Homo sapiens: one gene and its partners. The protein of the gene in region 1 interacts with the protein of each later gene in a pairwise test. Each region holds a gene or a part of one and is shown in the gene's direction. Other genes may lie near its edges.

The links.
Region 2: the proteins of SLC22A1 (region 1) and CHST12 interact in a protein complementation assay, tested with the Homo sapiens proteins (one large-scale study listed by BioGRID).
Region 3: the proteins of SLC22A1 (region 1) and TMBIM4 interact in a protein complementation assay, tested with the Homo sapiens proteins (one large-scale study listed by BioGRID).
Region 4: the proteins of SLC22A1 (region 1) and CYSTM1 interact in a protein complementation assay, tested with the Homo sapiens proteins (one large-scale study listed by BioGRID).
Region 5: the proteins of SLC22A1 (region 1) and SMIM24 interact in a protein complementation assay, tested with the Homo sapiens proteins (one large-scale study listed by BioGRID).
Region 6: the proteins of SLC22A1 (region 1) and LAPTM4A interact in a protein complementation assay, tested with the Homo sapiens proteins (one large-scale study listed by BioGRID).
Region 7: the proteins of SLC22A1 (region 1) and CLPTM1 interact in a protein complementation assay, tested with the Homo sapiens proteins (one large-scale study listed by BioGRID).

Annotation. Positions count from the first base shown.
Region 1 is NC_000006.12:160,142,315-160,145,814, forward strand, and holds part of SLC22A1 (solute carrier family 22 member 1), read left to right. Parts: intron 1-1,226; coding exon 1,227-1,335; intron 1,336-3,500. UniProt on the Homo sapiens protein: Electrogenic voltage-dependent transporter that mediates the transport of a variety of organic cations such as endogenous bioactive amines, cationic drugs and xenobiotics. Functions as a pH- and Na(+)-independent, bidirectional transporter.
Region 2 is NC_000007.14:2,445,111-2,448,610, forward strand, and holds the end of CHST12 (carbohydrate sulfotransferase 12), read left to right. Parts: 3' UTR 1-3,374; downstream 3,375-3,500. UniProt on the Homo sapiens protein: Catalyzes the transfer of sulfate to position 4 of the N-acetylgalactosamine (GalNAc) residue of chondroitin and desulfated dermatan sulfate.
Region 3 is NC_000012.12:66,163,497-66,166,996, reverse strand, and holds part of TMBIM4 (protein lifeguard 4), read left to right. Parts: intron 1-3,500.
Region 4 is NC_000005.10:140,173,796-140,177,987, forward strand, and holds the start of CYSTM1 (cysteine-rich and transmembrane domain-containing protein 1), read left to right. Parts: upstream 1-1,392; 5' UTR 1,393-1,490; intron 1,491-4,192.
Region 5 is NC_000019.10:3,477,726-3,481,979, reverse strand, and holds the start of SMIM24 (small integral membrane protein 24 precursor), read left to right. Parts: upstream 1-1,454; 5' UTR 1,455-1,516; coding exon 1,517-1,583; intron 1,584-3,050; coding exon 3,051-3,162; intron 3,163-3,501; coding exon 3,502-3,561; intron 3,562-4,254.
Region 6 is NC_000002.12:20,038,129-20,041,628, reverse strand, and holds part of LAPTM4A (lysosomal-associated transmembrane protein 4A), read left to right. Parts: intron 1-617; coding exon 618-738; intron 739-3,500. UniProt on the Homo sapiens protein: May function in the transport of nucleosides and/or nucleoside derivatives between the cytosol and the lumen of an intracellular membrane-bound compartment.
Region 7 is NC_000019.10:44,975,880-44,979,379, forward strand, and holds part of CLPTM1 (putative lipid scramblase CLPTM1), read left to right. Parts: intron 1-1,463; coding exon 1,464-1,581; intron 1,582-3,500. UniProt on the Homo sapiens protein: Involved in GABAergic but not glutamatergic transmission. Binds and traps GABAA receptors in the endoplasmic reticulum (ER).

The DNA of each region.
Region 1 (3,500 bases):
AAGAGTGGTAGGAAACCACTGGTGGCTTTGAGCAGGGGTGGACTTGACCCAACTCCAGTCTGAACTGGGTCCCTCTGGCTGCTGTGATGAGCGGCCCTGGGGGTGCAGAGTGGAGGCATGTTCAGTTCTCTGAGGCCAGGGATGCTGTTTACCTCTGGTCAAGCATCACCAGGCTAAAGACCTGTGAATGAGGACCTCCCTCGAGGCATTGGAGTGAACTCCTTGCCTTTTATCTTTTAGAAGCTAGATGAGGTGTGGTCCTTAACAGAAGGCTCAGCTTGGCTTCTCTATCAGGGCTGAGAGCTCCAGGAGGCAGAGAGACTGTGTTGCACCCATGAGACGGGTGAGGGGCACTCTCATTTGGACCCTCACACTGGCTGAGTGAGATGATACAAGATTTCCATAAATAGCCAGTATCTGGGGACAAGGGTCAAGCTGACATCGTGTCTGTGACCCCAGAGGCCTTTATAGTGAGCTGGTGTGTCACAGGGTTACTTGCATTTCAGTGCTGGGGGTAACCCATGCAGAGCAGATGATGGTGGTTATTAAGGATCTGAGCTTCTTTCCAATGAAGCCAAATTCTTTGATCATTCTCAATAGGGAGAGGGCTTTCTGGGCCTTCAGGTGGTCGAGAACCCCACAGCAGCCTGCCAGCGTGAAACAAGGGCTCGCTTCCCTCATTCTCAGCCTCTGAGACTATTATGAAAGGTGTTTTGGTTAAAACTGTATTGGAAACAAATATTAAATTGAGGATTAGAAATCTGTTTTGTTAGTTTGAGAACTACTACTAGAGGGATTATGTTTATTGAGTGCTTTCTGTGTTTCAGGCACTGAACTAGAATGGATACTATCATATAATAAATAAAAAGCCAACTTTAAAATTCTGTGGTCACAGTGGACATTTGACATACATCAGCTCTAAGTCTCATGATGATCTATAAGCTGGGTGTCATTATTCCCATTTTACAGCCCAGGAAACCAAGCTGAGATTCAAAAAGCCCATTCTTTCCCCTGTTCAATGGAGTCTTCTTGAATATGTCATCGTCAACTCCCCAAATCTCTTGAGACTCAGTTTACTTATCTAAAAATGAAAAAGTTAGATAAGACAAACTTCCAGGCCCCACCAGCTCTAATAGTCCAAGCATGACCCACCATGGCCTCTCACAGTAACTCAGGGAACGAAGCCCCCATCCACCACCCACACCCTCTTTGTACTTCCTTTCCAGACCTGCACTGGTTAAACATCATAATCATGTGTGTTGGCCGAATGGGAATCACCATTGCAATACAAATGATCTGCCTGGTGAATGCTGAGCTGTACCCCACATTCGTCAGGTGAGTGCATGGAACAGGGGTAGCCAGTGAAATGGCTGTGAACCCACCAGCTCAGTGGGAACCAACATCTCCAAGGTGCTTCCTAAAGATGCAGCCAAGCATTGCTCAGTTTGGACATTGAGTGGCATTGTTAAGAAATCACGTTCAGAGAGATGGGGTTAAGCATCAAGAGAGGGTCAACCCATAATTATAGCAGAGAATGTGAAAGGGGACCCTGTGAGCTGATGGATGGGGTCAAAGTTGTTCTGTACATACAACAAGTACAAGAACAAAAGGTGTAGAGAAGTGGGTACTGGACAGGGACTTGGGAAACCTGTGTTGTAGCCCTGTCCTTGGCACTAATTGATTGTATAAACATCAGCCATTTCATTGACACTTCTGGGCATCATTTTCTTAAACAGCTGACATTTGTATAGTGATACGCGAGTATTTCCATACATGTGATTCCCTTAAATTTGTTCTTGGGTATGATCATCCCCATATTACATATGAGGAAGCTGTGATTTAGAAAGGGAAAGAAGCGTTGTAGGGGTCAGACAGCTAGAAAGAAGCAGGGCTGGGGCAAGGACCACATCTTCCTGACCTGGAACCCTGTGGTTTTTCCATTATGGCACATTACTGTTCTGTAAACTGAGGAACTTTTCAAAATTGTGGTAAAATATACATAATATGAAATTTACTATCTTAGCCACTTTTAAGTGTACAGTTGAGTAGTGTTAAGTACCTTCACACAACCAAGCTCCAGAACTCTTCATCTTGCAAAACGGAAACTCTGTACTCATTAAACAGTAACTCCCCATACTCTCCACCCTCCAGCTCCTGACAACCGCCTGTCTACTTTCTGTTTCTATGAGTTTGGTTACTTTAGGTACCTCATATAAGTGGAATCATATAGTATTTGTCTTTGTATGACTGGCTTAGATCACTTAGTGTGATGGCCTCAAGGTTCATGTATGTTGTAGCATGTGCCAAAATTGTCTTCTTTTTAAAGGCTGAGTAATATTCCATTGTACATATATACCACATTTTGTTTATCCATTCATCTGTCAATGGACACTTGGGATGCTCCACTTCTTGGCTATTGTGAATAATACTGCTATGGACATGAATGTACAAATATCTCTTCAAGATATCTTTCAATTCTTTGGGGTGGAATATCCAAAAGTGGAATTACTGGATCATAATCTAATTCTATTATTAGTTTTTTGAAGGAACGGCTGTATTTTTTTTCCATAACGGCTACACTATTTTACATTCCCACCAACAGTTCACAAAGGTTCCAATTCCTCCACATCCTTGCCAACACTTGTTAATTTCTGTTGGTCTTTTTGATAGTAGCCATCCTAATGGGTTTGAAGTGTTATCTCATTGTGGTTTTGATTTCTCTGATGATTAATTATGTTGATCATCTTTTCATGTGCTTGTTGGCTATTTGTGTATTTTCTTTGGAGAAATGTCTACTCAAGTCCTTTCCCCATTTTTGAACTGGTTTTGTTGTTCTTGAGTTGTAGCAATGGTTTATATAATCTGGAGATTAACTCTTTATCAGGTACAAAATCTGCAAATATTTCAGCCCATTCCATAGGTTACCTTTTCATTCTGTTGATTGTGACCTTTGATGCACAGAAGTTTTTGATTGTGATGTAGTCTAATTTATCTCTTTTTACTTTTGTTGCCTTTTCTTTTGGTGCTGAAGAACTTTTTTTTTTTTAATCAAGTTTATTGAGGTACAATTGACAGAGTAAAATTCACTGCTTCTAACATGCAGTTAGATTAGTTTGACGACACACACACACACATACACTCACACACACGTATATATAGTCATTTAGCCACTGCCATGATGAAAATAGAGAATATTTCCATCACCCCCAAAAGGTTCTTCATGTCTCTTTGCAGTTAATACCCTTTTCTTCTCACCTCCAGACCATGCAGTTTTAGCTTTTCCAGAATGAGCTGTAAATGTAATAATAGGGCACGTCACCTTTTGTGTTTGGCTTCCTTCACTTAGCATGATGAAACTCACCCACTTGTTGGATGTATCAGTGTTTTGCTTGTTGTTGCTGTATAGTACTCCAGCATGTGAATGTCAGTGTGCCACAATTCATACACTGTTTAGCTATTCACCACTTGAGGGACATTTGAACGGCTTCCTTCAGAGGGAT
Region 2 (3,500 bases), on another chromosome or scaffold:
AAAAGGTTTGATTGAAAACTGGTTTGGTTCTCAGACATTCCAGAAGCTTCTCCCGGAGTCCAGAGCCTCCCAGTGGTGCTTTGGGAAGGGGGCCAGGCAGGGCGTCCTGGTGAGTGGACGTAGGGTGGGCAGGGCCACCCTTGTCCTGGGATGTTGTGGAGGACTTGGCACGCCCTGTCTCAGGCCTGGCTCTGGCTCTGGGTGGATGTTTTGCATCTTCAGAAAAAAGCTCCTGTGGGATATTTCTCCTCCAGCCGACCCCGCCCCCCAGGGCATTCGAGAAAAGGGTGCTTGTCTCTTGGTGAGAGGGCCACGGTTCCTTCAGTTTCTCCGTTCCTACGGGCCTCTTTCTTTTTCCTTTTTGAGACGGAATCTCACTGTGTCGCCCAGGCTCACTGCAACCTATGCCTCCCGGGTTCAAGTGGTTCTCATGCTTCAGCCTCCTGAGTAGCTGGGATTACAGGTGTGTGCCACCACATCCAGCTAATTTTTTGTATTTTTAGTAGAGATGGGGTTTTCCCATGTTGGCCAGGCCGGTCTCGAACTCCTGACCTCGTGATCTGCCCACGTTGGCCTCCAAAGTGCTAGGATTATAAGTGTGAGCCACCACACCAGGCCCGTTTCATCCCTGCCTCAGCCTGCATGCCAAGCTCCCTGGGTGCCCGCCCACAGGTGTCACCCTTTAAGGAGAAAGTGGCCTGGGGCTGGAAACAGGACTTTGTAGGGAAGGACAGCGCGTGTGAGAAAAGGCCTGTTGATGGGCACGCCAGGGTTTAATGGACGGCTCTTTGAAGTCATGGGCTGAGCCAGAAGGAATTGTCATGATGTCAGTCTCATTTCCAGATGGGGAAAGGGAGACCCAGGCTGCGGTGACCCACTGAGGCACAGGATCAGTGAGAACCCAGCCCTGGCTTTGCCCAGACCTCTCAAGGGCACTTCGTGGGACCATTGCCGGCCGTTGTGGCATCTGTCCCTGGCCTTGCCCCCATCCGTCTCTGCACAGCCCAGGTGGGTCCGAGCCAGCCCCAGGTCTCCAGGGTCCCAGCCCAGCCTCTAGAAGAGCCAGCAGCAGGGCTGGAAGGGAGAGCACATGCTGGGCCTTGGGGCTGCCTTGGACCTCAGGCCGTTGACAAGGAAAAGCGGAGAGTTGGGAAAAAAGGACAAATAGCTGAGCGCCAGCCGCAGTCTGGGGGACGGGAGCCTCGTGCGACTCTCGGAGTGCTGGCCAGATTGGCAGAGGGGAGGAGAGAGGAAAAACCCAGGCTCTGAGGAAAAACCTCTCCAGCCCAGCGCGTGGCCTGGCATTAACCCACTGCAGCCCCAGGAAGTGGTTCCACCCCAGGCAGCCAACAAGGCGGTGCCTGAACTATGTCTGTGGATGACGGAGCCACGACCTGTCCCTCAGGGCTCAGCGCTGCGGCTATGTCCAGGGACCCCTGGCTGTGCCCACGTCGGGGCTTCCCGTTCCTTACCTGCCATGAGAATGAGATGTCCAGGGACCTCCCTGCTCCAGCTGGGACCTGTGGGGCTTTGTCTGTTGTCCCGAGCACCTTGGAGATGTCATTTCTAACATTTTAACCCAGGAATCCCCCCACCAAGGGACAGAGTGCAAGGACATGATCGAACAGAAAAAGTTCTGGTACAAGATCAACCCCGTGGGGTGGTGAGTGCTGCAGCCCCGGGCCTCACATCCTGCCGTCCCTGTGGGAGATTGGAGCGGTCCCAGTGCCCACCGCTGATTCTCTGGCTCCAGCAACCCCTCCAGGTGGATCCGTCCCACGCAGCCTGGCCTGAAACACTGCCCAGCCACTGGGTCCAGTAAGACAGAGCCTCGAGTCATTCTGCCAAGAGGATCCAGAAACACAGACTTTTTCTGGGGTCCTGGAGGCTTCTGGCCCATGGGGAGCCCCTGGGTCCCAGCGATCCAGCCCTGATGTGCTGAGGGTGCAGGGCCCAGCTGCAGAGCAGAGGAGAGTGGCCCCCAGGGACCAGCAGCACGAAAGGCACACTGAGGCACACTGGCAGGCCTGGGCTGCAGAGAGCCTGAAGGTCATGGGGTAGCTGGTGGAAGCAGGAAGACCCCATACAGCAGCGACCACTGAGGCTGGTGCTGCACTTTCTCAGGGAATTGAGTGTGGGCTCCCACCATCCCGGCCACTGGCTTCCTCCAAAGCCTCCTCCTCTTACATCAGCAAACCTTCTGTTCGGTGACCCCCTCAGTGACCCTCTGTGCTTGCCTTCGTGGTCTTCCTCATGGAGGATTTCGGGTCAGCGTGGGGGTCAGAGGTCATTTCCCATACCCCCTCAAAGGTACTTCTTGCTGTGGTCCCCACACTCTGACACCCTCTTCTGAAATGAACACTTTTTTGTTGTTGTTGTTGAGACAGAGTCTTGCTCTGTCGCCCAGGCTGGAGTGCAGTGGCACAATCTTAGCTCACTGCAACCTCCACCTCCCAGGTTCAAGCGATTTTCATGCCTCAGCTTCCCGAGTAGCTGGGATTACAGGCATGTGCCACCAAGCCCAGCTAATTTTTGTATTTTTAGTAGAGATGAGGTTTCACCATGTTGGCCAGGCTGGTCTCGAACTTCTGACCTCAAGTGATTCGCCCGCCTCGGCCTCCCAAAGTGCTGGGATTACAAGCATGAGCCACTGCGCCCGGCCACAAACACTTTTTTTTTTTTAAACAAGTGAAAACAAGTTTATTAACAAAGTTAAGAAATAAAGAATGGCTATTCCATAGGGAGAGCAGCCTGAATAAACACTTTTTTTGTTGTTGTTGAGGCAGAGCCTCACTCTGTCGCCCAGGCAGGAGTGCAGTGGTGCGACCTCAGCTCTCAGCTCCCTGCACCGTCCACCTCCTGGGTTCAAGCGCTTCTTCCCCAAGTAGCTGGGACTATAGGCACACACCACCATGCCCGGCTAATTTTTCTCTTTTTAGTAGAGACAGGATTTCGCCATGTGGGTCGGGCTGGTCTCGAACTCCTGGTCTCAAGTGATCCGCCCTCCTCGGCCTTCCAAAATGCTAGGATTACAGGCATGAGCCGCCGTGCCTGGCCACAAACATATTTTAAATTTGAACAATAAAGGAACTGGACCAGGAAGTGTGGAGTTGGGGAGACCCTGCTCTCGCCAGGTGCCTTCCCGGCAGGTTGTCTCTGCCTCCCCTTGCACCCCTTGAATGGCGGGCTCCCTCTCCCATAGCCCCTGCCAGGCTGGATAACCAACTTCATTCTTATACCCGTCCGAATCTGCCCCCTGTTAATGGCACCCACCAGTCCTTGTCCAAACCTCGAAGCTCAGGACCTCACAGAGCACCACGTCCTCTTCTGTGTCATATGCAGCTGGATCTCAGTAAATGGCAATGTCTTCTCTACCCGGGACTGAACAAAACCCATTCCTCCTATGAAAGCCGATAAGACCTGGGGGCAGAGCAGCCCGCCTTCTGTCCCCGCGGCTTTAGGGGACACCGGCCACCCACCCTCAGCTTCTTCCCCCACTT
Region 3 (3,500 bases), on another chromosome or scaffold:
TTCTACATGTCTTTGCATGGCTTGATAGCTCATTTTTCTTTAGTGCTGAATACTATTCCATTGTTTGGATGCATTACAGTTTATTCATTCACCTACTGAAGGAAATCTTGCCTGCTTCCAAGTTTTGTCAATAAAGCTGCTTTGTAAACATCCATGTGCAGGTTTTTGTGTGGACATAAGTTTTCAACTCATTTGGGTAAATACCAAGCAGCACAATTGCCGTGTTGTATAGTAAGAGAATGTTTAGTTTCATAAGACATCACCAAGCTGTCTTACAAAGTGGCTGTACTATTTTGCACTTCCACCAGCAATGAATGAGAGTTCTTGTTGGTTCCACATACTCGTCAGCATTTGATGATATCAGTGTTTTAGATTTTGACCATTTAATAGGTGTGTAGTGGCATCTCCTTGTTGCTTTAACTTGTAATTCTCTAATGACTTATAATGTTGAGCATCTTTTCATATACTTATTTGCCATTTGTGTTTCTTCTTCCTTTTTCTTTTTCTTTTTCTTTTTTTTTTTTTTTTTTTTGAGACAAAGTATCACTCTGTCTCTCAGACTGGAGTGCAGTGGTACAGTCACAACTCACTGCAGCCTCAATGTCCCAGGCTCAAGTGATCCTCCCATCTCGGCCTCCTGAGTAGCTGGAACTACAGGCACATGCCACCATGCCTAGCTAATTTTTTATATTTTTAGAAGAGACAGGTTTCGTCATGTTAGTCAGGCTGGTCTCAAACTCGTGGGCTCAAGTGATCCACCCACCTTGGCCTCCGAAAGTGCCGGGATTACAGGCATAAGCCACTGTGCCCAGCCAATCAAATGAGAAAAGGGCAGTCTCTTCAACAAATGGTGTTGGGAAAATTGAATATCCACATTCAAAAGAATGAAATTAGATGCTTACCTTAAACTGTATACAAAAATTACCTCAAAAAAGATCGAAGTCCTAAATGTAAGACCTAAAACTATAAAACTCTTAGATAAAAACATAGGAGGACATTGGATTTGGCAATGGATTTCTTGGGCGTGACACCAAAAACAGGCAACAGAAGTAAAAATAGATGGATGACATCAAAATTTAAAACTTCTGTGTATCAAAGAACACATTCAACAGAGTGAAAAGGCCCATAAAATGGGTGAAAATATTTGCAAATGATATATCCTGTAAGAGGCTAATATCCAGAATACATAAGGAAATCCTACCATTCAATAACAAAAAACAACCTGATTTTAAAGTGAAGAAGTCAAGAAAATAAGATAGACTACATACTGGGAGAAAATATTTGCAAAAGATATATCTAATAAAGGACTGTTATCCAAAATATACAAAAGAACTCTAAACGATAAGAAGACAAATAGCCTGAATAAAATACAGCAAAAGACTTGAACACATACCCCACTAAAGAAGATTCACAAGGTTGGGTGCAGTGGTTCACGCCTGTAATCCTAACACTTTTGGAGGCCAAGGTGGGAGAATCACTTGAGCCTGGGAGGTCGAGGCTGCAGCAAGCTGTGATTGTGCCACTGCACTCCAGCCTAGGCAACAGAGGGAGACCGTGTCTGAAAAAAAAAAAAAAAAGGATCATATATACCAGGATTTATTATTGGAGCTCTGTTGTATTCCATTGGTCTGTATGTCTCTGTCTTTATGTTAGTACCACACTGTTTTGATTACTGTGGCTTTGTAATAAGTTTTGAAATCAGGAATGTGAGATCTCCAACTTTGTTGTTTTTTTTAGATATTGTTTTGGCAATTTGGGGTCCCCTGACATTCCATATACATTTTAGAATGGATTTTCTATTTCTGTGAAAGATGCCATTGGGATTTTGATAGGGATTGCATTAAATCTACCCAAAGTAGGTTACTTTGGGTAGTATGAACATCGGTTTTCCAATGTATAATGATGGATGTGTTTCCATTTATTTTTGTCTTTAATTTCTTTCATCAGTGTTTTGTAGTTTTCAAATTTGTCTTCTTGGTTAGGTTTATTCCTAAGCATTTTATTCCTTTTGATGCTGTTGTAAATGGAATTGTTTTCTTAACTTTCTTTCCAACCTTCTCATTGTTAGTGTATAAAAATGTAACTAATTTTGCATTTTAATTTTGTATCTTGAATCTTTGCTGAATTCATTTATTCTAACAGTTTATGGAATCTTTAGGGTTTTCTACATGTAAGGTCATGTTTGTGAACAGAGATAATTTTACTCCTTTCTTTCCAATATGGATGCCTTTTATTTCTTTTTCTTGCCCAATTGTTCTGGCGAGGACTTCCTGTACTATGTTGAATAGAAATGGCAAAAGCAAACGTCCTTGTCTTATTCCTGATCTTAGATGAAAAGTTTTCAGCTTTTCACCACTGAGTAAGACATTAGTGCTGGGCTTTTCATATATGGCTGTGGAGGCCAAAGTAATTCCATCTTGGTTGCTAATCTGCCTTGTTGACTTCTGACTAACCCCAGTTCCAGGAAACCCTCTAAGATTTCCAATTTATCTGTGGTTCCTTGTATAAGAGCATGTACTTACCATAAATCCTGTCCTTAGGTCAAAACAACCTTGATGTTGTCTTCCTTCAGTTGTCCTACAATCCCTTCTGAATCACCCTTTCCCTCTGGTATATAAGCCCTAGGTCAGGGGATTTATGGCCCGTAGATCCACTATCTTTTCTCTGCCTGAGACAGAGACACAGAGATGGCTTCTGTTCTTATGTCCCTATTAAATGTTTTTTTCTAAGAAAATGGATTTGCCAGCCTCTCAGCTTTCTTGGAATTTGGGGGTCGGTTTGCATAGAACTACTACCGTGGAAAAATGGCCTTTAATATGTTGAGGTAGTTTCTTTCAATTCCTACTTTATTGAGTGTTTTTATCATGAAGGTTGTGGAATTTTGTCAAAAGCTTTTTCTGCATCAGTTGAGATGATCATGTTTCTTTTTCCCCCAACATTCTGTAAATGTGCTGATTACATTGATTAATTTTCATGTATTGAACCATCCTCACAGTCCAGGAATACTGGTTGGTGGTGATCTATAATCCTTTTAATGTGCTGTTGAATTCTGTTTGCTAGTATTTTGTCGAGGATTTTCACATCAGTACTCATCAGGGACATTGCTCTGCAGTTTTCTTGTAGTGTCTTTGGCTTTGGTATCAGGGTAATGCAGGCTCCATAAAATGAGTTTGAAGGGTTCCCTCCTCTTCAGTTTTTTGGAAGAGTTTGAGGATTTGTGTTGAAGCTCAGCTTTCTAAAGTATATGTCTCTTAAACCAATAAGACATTCTCAGATTCTGTCTGATAGGATTTGGCTCTGTGTCCGTATCCAAATCTCACCTTGAGTTGTCATTCCCATCATCCCCACGTGTTGTGGGAGGGACCAGGTGGGAGGTAATTTAATCACAGGGGCAGTTACCTTCATGCTGTTCTTGTGATAGTAAGTTCTCACAAGATCTGATGGTTTTATAAGGGCCCTTTCCCCCTTTTGCTTGGCATTTCCCCTTTCTGCCATCATGA
Region 4 (4,192 bases), on another chromosome or scaffold:
TGCTCCTTGGGACCTGGGCTCACATTTTCAATCTCTTCTCTCCTATTAGTACAGCTCTGTCTAGAGCCATGGTTCTTCTCTACCTTTCACAGCTGTCTTCTTTCCCACTTATATGAGTTTCTTTAAGTGTGAAAATTAAAAAGTGCCACTTAAATACAATGATTAAGTCATAATAAACAGTACAAGTTGTACTTATGTGAGACATACCACCCATACACGTTTGATCTTCGAGAACCACATCTCAATCTGCCCATGGCCCATTGCCTGACACTAAAAGATGCTCACAAGAAGTTGACTATAAACTAACTTCTTGGTCTAAGATCCTAAACTCTTGAGAGGGAAGGTTTCAATACATATGAAACCTTCTTGGCAGTGCAGGGATGAGGAGAGTAAAACTGAAATGAAAGTCAGCAAATAGTGAAGGTGTGAAATAGGCAGTGACTCTCACACTGAGACCTCCAGGGGATGTTAAATTTTCATTTCGAAGCTGATAGTCTTATCTGGGAAGCCTAGAGAGTAACAAAAGTTGTAGGCATATACTTATATTAGAGTGGTGCAAAAGTAATTGCTGTTTTTGCCATTTAAAAAAAAAATGCAAAAACCACAATTACTTTTGCACCAACCTAATAGCAAGCAAGGGGAGGAATATGGAGAGAAAATCAATTTCTAAAATGAAAAATAAAAAATTTTTTGCAAGTAGGACTTGCAAGCTCATTCTAGGCCTTGCTCTGGGAGCTTTTCGGTAACTTCTCTTCCTGTTGGAACAGAAGAAGGAAACCTTCAGGACAGAAGATTCTGTCCCCCTTCCCCCTCCTGATGTGAATGAAGTCTCATTACACTCTAAAGTACTGGCGGGACTACTTGTTGCAAGGTTTATGGGGAAAAGTAGCCAGAGAGCAATCCAGTTATCAGCCTCAGCCCCATTCCGCTCAGGTACAGCTCGGGAAGTAAGCCCCCAACCCTAGTTGGGTCTGGACCAACAAGACACGAGGAGGCAGCAGCCCACAGCCGACCCCTCATGCCACGCACTGAGCAGGGTTCCGCATGGACGCTGGTCTTGCCTCCCAGGCGCCTGAACTAGCGGAGTTGGGGTATCGGGTGGAGTCTCGGAGAACCAATCCAATCTGAGGGGGACGCCTGTGGGAGTCCTAAGTATCCAGCGCAGCTGGGAGGCCCACGTTGGGAAGTCGGAGACCGACCCCGCCTCCCGACTGCGCCGACTGCAAGAGAGCGCTTCCGGCGGCGCTTGGAGGCCGAGCAGTTGGGGGCGGGGCTCGTGCTGTGACGCAAGCCTCGCCTCGCCCCGCGCCGCGCGCGTTGCCAGGGTGATCAGGTGACTCCCGGTTCGCGGCGCTGGGAGCGGCCGTGACGTCAGGCGCCCGGCTGCTCCTCACTTGCTCTGAGACAGGTGCGGCAAGTCTACTGCGGGCTGGTCCGGGCTCCTCAGGTTCAGACCCGACCGTTATCCAGTCGGTTCGTGGAGAGGAGAGGTGAGGTGCAGCGGACCTGGCCCGACCCAGCTGGGACCAGGGCGGGGATCAGGCACGGACAGGGCGCGTCCCCGGGCTCCCTGGGGAGCGCCCTGAGAACTGGGGGGCACCCGGGCTGGCCTGGCTCAGGCAGGGGTTCGCGCAGCCCCTGGGGAGGGGCAGGGAGGCAGGGAAGCTGCTGCCGCCAGCTGGATCCCTCCCGGCGCCCCGCGGCTACTCTGGGGCTCCTGGTCGCCGCGCCGCGCGTCTCGGCGGTGGACTCACAGGGTCTCCGCGTCGCTGCGGTTCTCGTCTCACGAGGAGTCGGCGGGCTCGGAGCGGGGCTCGCCACACCCCGTCCCGGGGGACGTCCGCGGGAGGCTTCTGGATTTCTTCGCCTTGGGCTGCGATTTCTGAGGCGCTGCTCTGCCTATTCCGAGCTGGGCCAGCCGGGGGCAGGGGGCAGGTCGCGAGTCCCGCGGGTGGGAGCGGAGCGGAAGTAACTAGTGACTGGAAGTAACTAGGGAACGCAAAGCCGGCGCTCGGAGGCCGGGGTGTTCAGAGAAGGCGTTGCGGGGGAAAGGAATCCCGGCTGCTGTTGAGAGCCGTGGATTGGGATCTGAGCGGACCTGTTGGAGGAAGTGAAATCTGAGCGGGGTCCTGACGGGTGGGAACTAATCTCCCGGTAGCAGTGGAGGTTGCAGGGGGGAGAGAAGGAGGGGAGGACCCCTGGGGAAGGAGACCATGAGGAAAAACGATTTGGGGACTGACTGGACCGTCTGCTGGGCTGTTTTGGGGGAAAAAAAGTTTGGAGAATTAGGTTAGGGAGGATTAGGAAAGGACCCTTGAGTGCCCACCTGAGAGGCACTGTGTGCTGTGGGGAGCCATTGAAACGTTGGCTAGATTGGGGTAGGGGGAACACTGAGGAAGTTGGTGTGAGGGGAACACTGAGGAAGTTGGTGTGACATTCCGGCAAAAAGGTGACAACACTCTTCTCTGATGGGATTCCTCAAACCCTGCTTATGAAATACTTGTAACCGACAAGGGTAGGGGCTCAGGCAGCCAGGTGCCTTTTTCAGCCATTGTTGGCAAATTTTTAGAAATTAAACAAAAAATAATTGTACATATTTATAGATTTATACAATATGATACATGTAAACTTTGTGGAGTAACCATGTTAGCAGATTTTTAAAAATTCCTTTTTATGAAAGGACCCACCCAAGGGCAGCTCATTTTCGAGTATCTCATTTGACGGGATTTAATGACTGGTTGGGAGCTATGCCCCCCTCAGTATGCAGGGAGATTATAGCGTCCACAACACTTTGCCCTTCAGAGGTTTCAGAGTGACTTACAAACACCTTGTATCCCTAGGGTGAAACCCAAACCCCAAATGACTGGTAAGAGATTTAATAGGGGGAAGTTATTAAAGGAGAACCAGCATCCAAACATTCATGTGGGGCATTGGATTCGCTGAAAGGAGTCCCATACTATTTGTTGATTGTAGATCAAAGATCTCTAGACCTGGCCTGGTGCGGTGGCTCACACCTGTAATCCCAGCACTTTGGGAGGCCGAGGCGGACGGATCACGAGGTCAGGAGATCGAGACCATCCTGACTAACACGGTGAAACCCCGTCTCTACTAAAAATATAAAAAATAAGCCGGGCGTGGTGGCGGGCGCCTGTAATCCCAGCTACACGGGAGGCTGAGGCAGGAGAATGGCGTGAACCCGGGAGGTGGAGCTTGCAGTGAGCCGAGGCTGCGCCACTGCACTCCAGCCTGGGCGACAGAGCGAGACTCTGTCTCAAAAAAAAAAAAAAAAAAATCTCTAGTCCTTTCCTGCCAGCTTTGAGTTTCTCCGTGTAAGGCTGCGTAAGTGTTAGTTGGCTATTTTGTCTTAATTTCCTGAGCAACAGGAAAAATATATTTTGGTTATATGAAGAGGAATGCTTTGGTAATTTATGATTTTTCCCAGCCCTGAAATTTATTGGTGCTAGGACCAAAAATACACAGCTGTCTATTTTATTTTATTTATTTGTTTATTTTTGAGGCGGAGTCTTGCTCTGTCGCCCAGGCTGGAGTGCAGTGTCGAGATCTTGGCTCATTGCAACCTTTGCCTCCTGGGTTCAAGAGCTGTCTATTTTATATTGAAACTTACCAAAGTCTGTTTTCTGGGAGGTAGTGAAATTATTTTGTATTTCTTTGACTCCAGAAAACAGAATTGGACCTCCAGGGATCCTGTACAGTGAAAGGCAGGTTTGGGAATTGCGAAGGAAGGTGGCCGCAGCTGGTTTGTGCGTAAATATAGAAACCGGTGCAGCACTCAAAGGAGTGCAAATCCAGGGTGAGACCTGGGGAAACGGGACTTCCAGTCAGATCAGTGAAGTCATTCTCTGTAAAAGAAGCCCCGAAGTGTGTAAAAGGCCAGAGTAGTTTTTTCCCCGTGTGTTCCTGTTGAGTGGTAGAGATTATGATAGTGATTTTTAAGGGGCTTTGCAGGAGCTTGTTAATATTAAGAATCGCTGGAAATCAGATGTCTTGGCCTCATTAAAAAATTTAGAAAAGTAACTGTTTTCCAAATCTCTTTGATACTATTTGAAGTGGCCAACTAATTATGGTTCCTTTGGAAAGAAACAGTCCACCCCCTCCTTTCCCAAACAAAATAACTATGTGCTGTCAGGGCAGTTAAGTAGGCCAAAAGTTTTTGGAAATTTTCTGCTTTCAT
Region 5 (4,254 bases), on another chromosome or scaffold:
AACACCTGTGCGATGACGCCGGGCCTTCCTACCACTCGTCTGGGCCATGGCTGCTCCCGTGTCAGCTGGGGCGGGGTCCCCCTTCGCCCGGGCAGGGCCCACTATCTAATCAGCCGAGGGACCAAGGTTGAGGACAGGAGAGCCTGGAGCCTGAGTCATCAACGCTCCCGGGCATCCCCACGTGAGAGCGTCCCGGTTTGCAGGTGGACCACGGGCATGTGGCCTCTGCACACCTTCCCTGTCCCTGTGTGCTCCCATGGCTGCTTGTGGGTCCTCAGGGGCCAAGAGCCTGGGCGAGGCAGGATAAGCTGGGGGCGAGGCAGACCCGGCTTCAAATCCCAGGTCAGACCTGCTGCGTGACCTTGACTTTCCTGGGCACAATGAGACCGGCACCATTTCACGGGGTGTTAAGAAAAGGAAATGCGATCTGTGAAATTGCCGAGCACGGAGCCTCATGTGTACTCTGAGAGCACAAAAGGTGACTCTCAAATTTGCTTTGAGAGACAAGGTCTTGTTCTGTTGCCCAGGCTGGAGTGCGGTGGTGCATGCAGTGGTGCAGTCGTAGCTCGCTGCAGCCTCGAACTCCTGGGCTCAAGCGATCCTCTCACCTCAGTCTCTTTGAGTAGCTGAGACTACAGGTGCAGGCCACCATGCTCAGCTAAGTTTTACATTTTTTATTTTAGAGACGGGAGGAGGTTGGTCTGGAACTCCTGGCCTCAAGCGATTCTCCCGCCTTAGCCTCCCAGAGTGCTGGGATTACAGGCGTGAGACACTGTACCCAGCCTTGGTAACTCTTTGTATTTCTAATTTTTTTTATTTCCTTTGAGACAGGGTCTTCCTCTGTCACCCAGGCTGGAGTGCGGTGGTGCGGCCATAACTGGCTGCAGCCTCAAACTCCTGGGCTCAAGTGATCCTCCCACTTCAGCACACCCTAGTAGCTGGGCCTGCAGGTGCCCGCCGCGCCTGGCTAATTTTTCTATTTTTGTAGAGGTAGGGCTTGACTAAGTTGCCCAGGTTAGGCTCAAGGATCTGCCCGCGTTGGCCTCTCAATGTAGTGGGATTACAGGTGTGAGGCACTGGGTGGGCGCACCCTTCTTAAGATATTCCAGTTGTATTTGTGAGTTCCCCCTGTGTCCAGAGTGGCACGGGGCCTGGGCCGGGACGGGAGGTCGCAGCCATCTCAGCTCAGCCCCTGCAGCAGGGATCACAAAGGGGTGGCCCTGAGGCTGATGGTCCCCAGGGCAGGGTGCAGGGAGGAGGGACTCCCTCAGTTAATTGTTACACAGGTCCAGAGTCTGGCCTCCCGGAGGGAGAGCGATGGGGCAGGAGCTGGCAGGGGAGGGGCAGGATGCCCAATCAGGTGGTGCCAGGGGCGGGCCCCGCTCCCAGGTCTCAGGCATCCCCCGCCCGGGGACCGCCTGTGCCTTATCACGGGGAGGCAGGGCCTCGCCCACACCAAACCTGTGGACGCCGACCCGGGACCGCCGCTGGCTGGCTGCTGGCTCACTCGACCGTCATGGAGACCCTGGGGGCCCTTCTGGTGCTGGAGTTTCTGCTCCTCTCCCCGGTGGAGGCCCAGCAGGGTAGGTGCAGGGGGGCGGGAGGGGGCGTCGCGGGATAGGGGAGTTGGTCAGGTGATCACCATCTCCCAATTTTCCATGGCGAGAAAAAGGAGAGGGGGCAGGAAGAAAAGGAAGAGTGGCTTGGAGGCCCTTCTCAACCCCCGCAGTACCGCCCGGCCTCCCTCTCGCTGGGCTCTGCCCTCCTCTGTAAGGGACCCCCCACCGCCCACCCGAGCCTTTCCCCTCTCCAGCCCTTCTGAGCACACCTGGCTGAACCCCCCGCCTTGAGCTCGGCCCCACTCTGAGCTCGGGCCTCCTTTACAAGCCCCTCCCCATCTGAGTCCCCGCCTCTTTTGTGAACCGCTCCTTCTCACTCCTCCTCCTTTATAAACCCCTCCCCGAGCCCCTCCTCCTCTGTAAGCCCCTCCCCTCTGGGCTCCTCCTTCTTTATAAGCCCCTCCCCCTGAGCCTCTGCCTCCTCTATAAGCCCCTCTCCCTCTGAGCCCCCTAGTTCACAAGCCTCTCCCCATCCGAGCCCCTTCCTCCTTTGTAAGCACCTCCTTCTCACTCTCCCTCCTTTATAAACCCCTCCCCGAGTCCCTCCTCCTCTGTAAGCCCCTCCCCTCTGAGCTCCTCCTTCTTTATAAGCCCCTCCCCCTGAGCCTCTGCCTCCTCTACAAGCCCCTCCCACTCTGAGCCCCCTAGTTCACAAGCCCCTCCCCATCTGAGCCTCTTCCTCCTCTGTAAGCCCCTCCTTCTCACTCATCCTTTATAGACCCCTCCCTGAGCCCCTCGTCTGTTGTAAGCCCCTCCCCTCTGAGCTCCTCCTTCTTTATAAGCCCCTCCTCCTGAGCCTCTGCCGCCTTTATAAGCCCCTCCCACTCTGAGACCCTCTCCCCTTATAAGCACCTCCCCTCTGAGCTCCTCCTTTATAAGCCCCTCCCTCTAAGCCTCTGCCTCCTTTTATAAGCTCCCCCCAACAGCTCCTCTGTTGTAAGCCCCAACCCCCCAGACTCTTCTTTATAAGCCCTCCCCATCTGAGCCACCTCCTCCTTCATAAGCCCCTCCCCTGAGCTTGTTCTCCTTTATAAACCCCACCCCTGAGCCACTCCTTTGTCATAAGCCCCGCCCTTCTGAGGTCCGCCTTTATAAGCCCCTCCCCCTGAGCCTCTGCCTGCATTATAAGCCCCGCCCCTTCTGAGCCCTCCTGATTTGTAAACTCCGTCCCCTCTAAGCCCCCCTTCTTTTATAAGCCCCTCCCCTCTCTGGGCCCCCAGGCTCCCTCCCACTCTGGTAAGGTACCCTCCCCCTCTCTAAACCCTCCCGACCCCCCTACGCCATCCAGGTCTCTGAAGCTCCGTCCCTTTCCAATACCCCCTCTGTCGGAGCACCCCCAGTGACCTTCTCTCTCTCCTTGCTAGGGTGGTGGGGGAAGGGGGTCTTCTGACCTTTTCTTCCTCTGAGTCGAACCTCCCCAACTTCCTGCAGCCACGGAGCATCGCCTGAAGCCGTGGCTGGTGGGCCTGGCTGCGGTAGTCGGCTTCCTGTTCATCGTCTATTTGGTCTTGCTGGCCAACCGCCTCTGGTGTTCCAAGGCCAGGTGGGTGCCCGCCCCCACCCCGCTGCCCCCACAGCCCTGCCCCCACCCCCAGCTTCCCAACCCTCTCTGGTACCCCCATCACCAGCCTCAAAGTCCGAAGGTCTCCCATTTCCCTGCTGCTCCTCCAACCTCTACTCTCAGAGCCCAGATCCCGGGCTTGCACCCGCCCGTCTCCCCAAGACAACGAGCCAGGCAGCCCAGCCCTTCCTTGCGTCCTGGGGTTCATGAGCCCCGGCTGGGAGGTTGGGACAGAGGCTGAGGCTGTCACACCGCTTCCTTCCCTTTACCGCCCCCTTTCTCCTCTCCCGCCCCCTTCCACCTTTCCCTTTATCTCTGCAGGGCTGAGGACGAGGAGGAGACCACGTTCAGAATGGAGTCCAACCTATACCAGGACCAGAGGTACTATGCGTGCGGATGCTGGGGGTCTGTGTGAACCCCTCCTCGGGGTGGGGGAATGGGTGTGCGCAGATGACCTTGCTGTCCTGAATCCTTCAAACACATTCCTGCCCTGGGATCTTCACCTTTCCTGTATCTTCTGGCAGCTCCTTCTCCTCCTCCAGTCCCTAGTCAGGGGTTTCCAGCCTGGCCACCAGCCTTCCTGACACTGTCCCCAGCCCCAAGTCTGATTCATGCTTATCACCAGTGGAGCTGTCTTAGTTGTTCACTAATTTTGAGACATTACGTGGTGCCTTCCAGTTGTGTAGGCAACTTAGCTTTTGTCCTGGCTGTGTCCTCATACCCAGCATTGGGCCTGGAACACAGGAGGTGCTTAATAAATACCTGTTGAAGAAGACTGTGGTGTAGGATTGTGTAGGTGTCTGTACAAGGCCTAGGTATGGGCGACCCACCTGGACTCAGTGCCTCCTATGGCTCTGACTGCCTCCCAACCTGAGGATTCCCACAGAGGACTCAGGGATGCAGACCTCCATCTTCCATCCACCCATCACCCACTCATCCACCCACTCACCCATTCATCCACTCACCCATTCACCCACTCACCCACCATCCATCCATCCATCATCCACTCATCCACCCACTCACCCATTCACCCACTCACCCATCCACCCACTCACCCATTCACCCACTCACCCA
Region 6 (3,500 bases), on another chromosome or scaffold:
AGGAAGGGGAGGCTTCAGTGAGCTGAGATTGCACCACTGCACTCCACCCTGGGCAATAGAGTGAGACTCCATATCACACACACGCACACATACACATACACACACACACACAAAAGTAAGACTAGTAGATAAGTGACTTTCAGTATCTTGGTAAGTCTCTTAAGCATTTGAGTCTAGCTCTAGAGGAAATAGTGAGTTCTCTGTCACCTGATGAGAGATGCTGTGGAGGGGTTTCGGGCATCTGATGAATAAATATAACAGATGAACAGTAACTTCTTCAAATCCAGAAATTCTGAGATTGGTATATGAATAAATAGGTAGCTTCGAACATGAACCATTTGTAATGATTCTTTAGTTTTAATTTTTTTCTGGTGTATTGGTTAAGCATCTTATCTCTCAAATGGTTAATATTACTTATACTTTATAAAATATTTATTTTTAAATTATTCTCATAGTGGTAATTGCGTATTGTTTTATCTCACAGGTAGTCTCCCACTATTTTATATCTTTGTTACTTCAAGTAAGACAATCTTAAATATGAGAGGACATCTAGAGATTGTGCTAAGATTGCGTCGTGATGGTAATTAATGTAACTGATAGAATGTTATCTTTTCCAGGTAGTAAACCTATTGATGGCAATTTTGCTGACTGTGGAAGTGACTCATCCAAACTCCATGCCAGCTGTCAACATTCAGTATGAAGTCATCGGTAATTACTATTCGTCTGAGAGAATGGCTGGTATGTGTTTAATAGAAAAACAAAAAAATCTCCCCTGCTAATTTTTATATACAGTCCTGTGTTGTTTAATGATGGGGACACATTCTGAGAAATGTCACTGGGTGATATTGTTGTGTGAACATCATAGGGTGTACTTACACAAACCTAGATAGCGTAGCCTACTATACACCTAGGCGATGTGGTAGAGACTCCTAGGCTAAAACCTGTACAGCAGGTTACTGTACCGAATACTGTAGGCAGTTATCATACAGTGGCAAATAGGTGTGTATCTAAAGATGGAAAAATATAGTAATACTGTAAATACACTATTACAGTGTTATGGAACCCTCATGATATATGCAGTCCATTGTTGACCAAAATGTTGTTGGCCCATGTCTGTCTGTCTCCACACACACTGGTTATTTAGGGGATTGATTAGATTATGCTTAAGTTACATTTCAGAAAGTTAAAATGGTTACATAATAAGGGTAACAAGTTAAATTATATTTAAGTCATTCTTGCTGAGGCAGGAAAGTATTTTGATGGGTTTTTCAGAGAGATTCAGTGAGGATTACAATAGAGCATTTCTAGCCAGAAAATGTAATGGACTATTAAGTTTTTGAGAAATGTGTAAAATGTACCTTGAAATCAAAATAAGCATGCAGGCTTCATAAGACTTTTTTTTTAATGTAGCTACTAGTAGAAAGGAGAAGTTGCTATGGTTACAATATATGTGTCCCTCCAAAATTCACATGCTGGAGCTTAACCTCCAAGGTGATGATATTAAGAGGTAGGACCCTTGGGTGGTGATTAGGCCATGAGGGCTCTACCCTTATGAATGGGATAAATGCCTTTCTTTTTTTTTGAGACAGAGTTTTGCGCTTGTTGCCCAGGCTGGAGTGCAGTGGTGCGATCTCGGCTCAGGGCAACCTCTGCCTCCTGGGTTCAAGCGATTCTCCTGCCTCAGCCTCCTGAGTAGCTGGGATTACAGGCACACACCACCACACCCGGCTAATTTTTTGTATTTTTAGAGTTACTCCATGTTGGTCAGGTTGGTCTCGAACTCCCGACCTTAGGTGATCCACCCGCCTCAGCCTCCCAAAGTGCTGGGATTACAGGCGTGCCACAGCGCCCAGCCAGCGCCCTTCATTTTTAAAATCACATTTATATTATTTATTTGTTTAAAAAAAGTTTTTTAGAGAAAAGGTCTTACTTTGTTGTCCCAACTGGAGTGCAGTGGTACAGTAATAGCTCACTGTAACCCAGAATTCCTGAGCTCAAGTGATCCTCCCACCTCAGCTGCCTGAGTAGCTAAATTTTTGTGGAGATCGGGTCTCCCTGTCTTTACCAGGCTGGTCTTGAGCTCCCGGCTTCAAGGGACCCTCCCACTTCAGCCTCCCAAAGTGCTGAGATTACAGGCATGAGCCACTGTGCCCAGCCCATAGCAGACTCTTGAAAGCCGATTATTTGAATTACAAATTTTGCTTTCAAGTTTGATAATACCTGTTTAATTTCATATTTTGTTTTTACCTGAATTCTTCTAAGTGGAAGTTTGCATGTTGTAGCAGGGAAGTCCTTTAAATTCTTAACATTTATCAATCCTGTATCCTCTAAGAAAAAAGTAAAGAGGACTATTCCTAGTTTAGTGCCAAATATTGATGAGGTTTTACTGCCCAGTGATAAATTATATATACATGCTGTGCATGGTGGCTCATGCCTGTAATCCCATCACTTTGGGAGGCCGAGGCAGGTGAATCACTTGAGGTCAGGAGTTTGAGACTAGCCTGGCTAACATGGTGAAATCCTGTCTCTATTAAAAATACAAAAATTAGCTGGGCTTGGTGGCGCAGGCCTGCAATCCTAGCTACTCTGGAGGCTGAGGCAAAAGAATCTCATGAACCTGGGAGGCAGAGGTTGCAGTGAGCTGAGATTGTGCCACTGCACTCCAGCCTGGGTGACAGTGAGATTGTCTCAAAGAAAAAAAAAAAGTTGTATATACATTTACCCAATAGGGAATATTCAGCAGTTGTTCTAGTCATTCATCATTATTAGTGCCCTCAGTATTTTTTTTCTTTTTTCATTTTTAAAACATCTTTTGTGCATACAGGGTCTTGCTATATTGCCCAGGTTGGTCTTGAACTCCTGGCCTCAAGTAATTTTCCCACCTTAGTCTCTCAGAGTACTGAGATTACAGGTGTGGGTTGCCGTGCCCATCCCCCCCAGTTTCTTAATCTCTGCCCAGACGGATCACCTGATGTTGGGAGTTTAGACCAGCCTGGCCAACATGGTGAAACCTCGTCTCTACTAGAAATACAGAAATTAGCTGGATGTGGTGGTGCTTGCCTATAATTCCAGCTACTTGGGAGGCTGAGGCAAGAGAATCACATGAACCTGGGAGGTTGAGGTTGCAGTGAGCCGAGATCGCGCCACTGCACTCTAGCCTGGGCGACAGAGCAAGACTCTGTCTCAGGAAAAGAAAGAAAAAACTGTCCAGAGTCACAGAATCAACTACAGATTTGTGCTAAGAAATTCAGTAAGTCAGGCACGGTTTAGAATTGCTTGAGATTACTTGGCTGTTTTGTGAAAAAATTAGTGAACATGGATTAATGGAGAGTTGGAACAACCTGAGGAAGAGTTGAGAAACGAAGAAGAAAGTAGTGTGTGTTAACATAGATACCAGGGTGCAGGAAGCAATGAATTTTGGTGTTTGGGAGGTTGGGTGGGGAAGTGAGGTTAATGGCGAAATTTGAATTTCAGGTTATATTTATCTAGAGCAAAGGGTA
Region 7 (3,500 bases), on another chromosome or scaffold:
TGAGATGGGGTCTTGCTCTGTTGCCTAGGCTGAAGTGCAGTGGTGCAATTACAGCTCACTGCAGCCTCAACCTCCTGGGCTCAAGCAATCTTTTCACCTCAGCCTCCCAAGTAGCTGGGACAACAGGCATGCACCACCATGCCCAGCTAATTTTTTGTAGAGATGGGGTCTCAACATGTTTCCCAGGCTGGTCTCAAACTCCTCTGCTCAAGCGATCCTCTCACCTCAGCCTCTCAAAGTGCTGGAATTACAGGCATGAACCACCCCACCTGGCTGGACTTTCTGACCTGCACTGAGAGGTGACTCCCACAGAGACCTCAAGCCCAGCCCCCAGGCCTTGCCACGAGATCCAAGGAAGGACCAGGGCCTGGCAGGCCCAGCAGGGGGATCTGCTTCCAAGGGCTTGGATCTAAGTCGAAGCTTCAGGGTGGGGTCCAAGTGGACTTAAAAGGCAGGAGAGCTGGGCACAGTGGCATGTGCCTGTAGGCACAGCTACTCAGGAGGCTGAGGTGGGAGAATGGCCAGAGCCCAGGAGTTTAAGACTGTAGTGTGCCATGATCGCAACTGCAAATAGCCAGTGCACTCCAGCCTGGGCAACACAGGAAGACCCCATCTCTAAAAAAGATAGGGAGAGTGAGGAGAACACAATGTGGCCAACTGAATTCGAGCTCTGCACAAGGATCAGAGAGGTTCAGTGCTCGCCTTTGTCTCCACCCAGTGCCCCTGGACAACTTGCCTCCCTTCTTGAAGCCTCAGTTTCCTCATCTGGATCAAGTGAGAATAGTCCCCCTTCCCTGGGAGGCAAGGAGACTTGATGAGATAATGAGGAAGACTTGGGCAGAGAGGGGCCAGCTGGAGGTAGCAGGGAGTAGCACCCAGGAGCCCACAGACTGGGTTTCCATCTGCGTACTTGCCACACACTATGTGACCCCTTGGCATGAGCCCCGTTTGCCTCATCTGCAAAATGGGGTGGTAACATGACCCATTGCATAAGGTTGACATGTTATATGTGTGTTAACTCGTTAGATTAGGAAGCTGTTGTCTGAAGTGCCCAGGGCAGGGTCTGGCCCATAGTAGGAGCTCCATGTCGGTCAGCTGCTTCTTCCTGTTGAGTGAGCTTAACGAGAGCTCGTTGACTGAGCTGTGTGCCAGTGCTCCAGGTAGTCCCTGCAGTGGTGCCCTCGGGTCAGTGCTGTGGGAACTTCGCATCCTCTAGGTGGGGCCCTGAGGCTCAGAGAGAAGCTGAGCTCACACGGCCATGGCAGGTAGAGCGGGCGTCTGAGTCTGTCTGACTCCAGCATTTACCTCTCTGCCACCCAGCTACATGCCCCACCCTGAGTACTCAGTAAATGGCCAGAGAGTTGAGGGGGAGGAAACTGCTGCAGATGGGTGCCAGGCAGGGCTTTAACGTTTCCCTCACCCCAGTTGCCCAGCCTGCCCACCTGACCTTCCGTCTTTTGCAGAGCGTCCAGCAGAACGGCTCCATCTACATCCACGTTTACTTCACCAAGAGTGGCTTCCACCCAGACCCCCGGCAGAAGGCCCTGTACCGCCGGCTTGCCACAGTCCACATGTCCCGGAGTAAGTCGCTCCCCTGCAGCCAGGACCCACTGTCCAGGAGGCCAGCATCCTGGGAGCCCCCAGGCTAATGTGGCGGACAAATCCCAAGTCCAGGAGGGCAGGCAGGAAGCCTGTGCTCAAAGAGGGTGGGATTGGCAGGGCAGGCTCAAGCCCCACCCAGCCTGAAAGAGCCCTGTGGACACTAAGCAGGGATACCCACGGAGGAAGGGAGACCCACGGAGGCTCAGGGACCAGAGAGAAATTGGCCAGAAAAAGCAGCTGGAGACAGGGACTCTTGGAGAGGAGGAGACGTCCTTCACCAAGGGGGAAGGGCCAGGGTTGACTTTTGCACAGTAGGGGCCTGATAGAAGTAGACACTCAAAAATAATTTGTGGGCTGGGTGCAGTGGTTCATGCCTGTAATCCTAGCACTTTGGGAGACAAGGTGGGCAGATTGCTTGAGCCCAGGAGTTTGAGACCAGCCTGGGAAACATGACAAAACCCTGTCTCTACCAAAAAAGACACAAAAACTAGCTGGGCGTGTGCCTGTAGTCCCAGCTGCTCAGGAGGCTGAGGTGGGAGGATCGCTTGAGCCCAGGAGGTGGAGGTTGCAGTGAGCCAGAATCACACCACTGCACTCCAGCCTGGGTGACAGACCGAGAACCTGTCTCAAAAAGATAGATAGAGGCCGGGCACAGTGGCTCACGCCTGTAATCCCAGGACTTTGGGAGGCCGAGGCGGGTGAATCACAAGGTCAAGAGATAGAGACCATCCTGGCCAACACGGTGAAACCCCGTCTCTACTAAAAATACAAAAATTAGCTGGGTGTAGTAGCATGCTCCTGTAGTCCCAGCTACTTGGGAGGCTGAGGCAGGAGAATCGCTTGAATCCAGGAGGCGGAGGTTGCATTGAGCTGAGATCACGCCATTGCACTCCAGCCTGGTGACACAGCAAGACTCCGTCTCCGTCTCAAAAAAAAAAAAAATAGATAAAATTCAAAGAACAGTGTGGGCAACATAATGAGACTTCGTTGCTACAAAAATTAATAGCCAGGTATGGTGGTGAGCACCTGTGGTTCCAGCTACATGGGAGGCTGAGGTGGGAGGATCGCTTGAACCTGGGAGGTCAAGGATGCAGTGAGCTGTGATTGCACTACAGCTTTCCAGCCTGGGCGACAGAGCAAGTCCACGTCTCTGAAAAAACAATAGTAATAAAAAATAAGACTACCACTTCTACTCCCATGATAACTCATTAATCCATTAAACCACTAATCCATGAATGGGTTAATCAGTTCCTGAGGGGAGGGTCCTCATGACCCAGTCACCTCTTAAAAGCCTCATCTCTCAGTACTGGCACATTGGGGATTAAGTTTCACTGGGAGTGGGGAGTACTAGAGTACATCAGTAGTCCCAGCTACTTGGGAGGCTGAGGTGGGAGAATCAGCATGAGTTTTGGCCAGGACAAACATTCAAACCATAGCATTGTCCGTCCTCTTGTTTTCGAGAAGTTAATAATTGTTGTCATCTTTCTGCTTGCCTGGCTCTTTTTTTTTTTTTTTTTGAGACAGGGTCTCACTATGTCGCCCAGGCTGGAGTGCAGTGGACTATCTCAGCTCACCACAATTTCCACCTCCCAAGTTCAAGCGATTCTCCCACCTTAGCCTCCAAAATAGCTGGGACTACAGGCACACGCCACTACGCCCGGCTAGTTTTTGTATTTTTAGTAGAGACGGGGTTTCGCCATGTTGGCCAGGCTGGTCTCAAACTCCTGACCTCAAGTGATCGTCTGCCTCGGCCTCCCAAAGTGCTGGGATTACAGGTGTGAGCTGCCACACCCAGCCTTGCTTGGTTCTCTGTGAGCTTTTTCCCTGAGTCCTCTGTCTCCTGATGGGCAGCCGTAGAAATCTCTTGCTGTACCTGTTTGAGCGGAGCTGGAGAATGG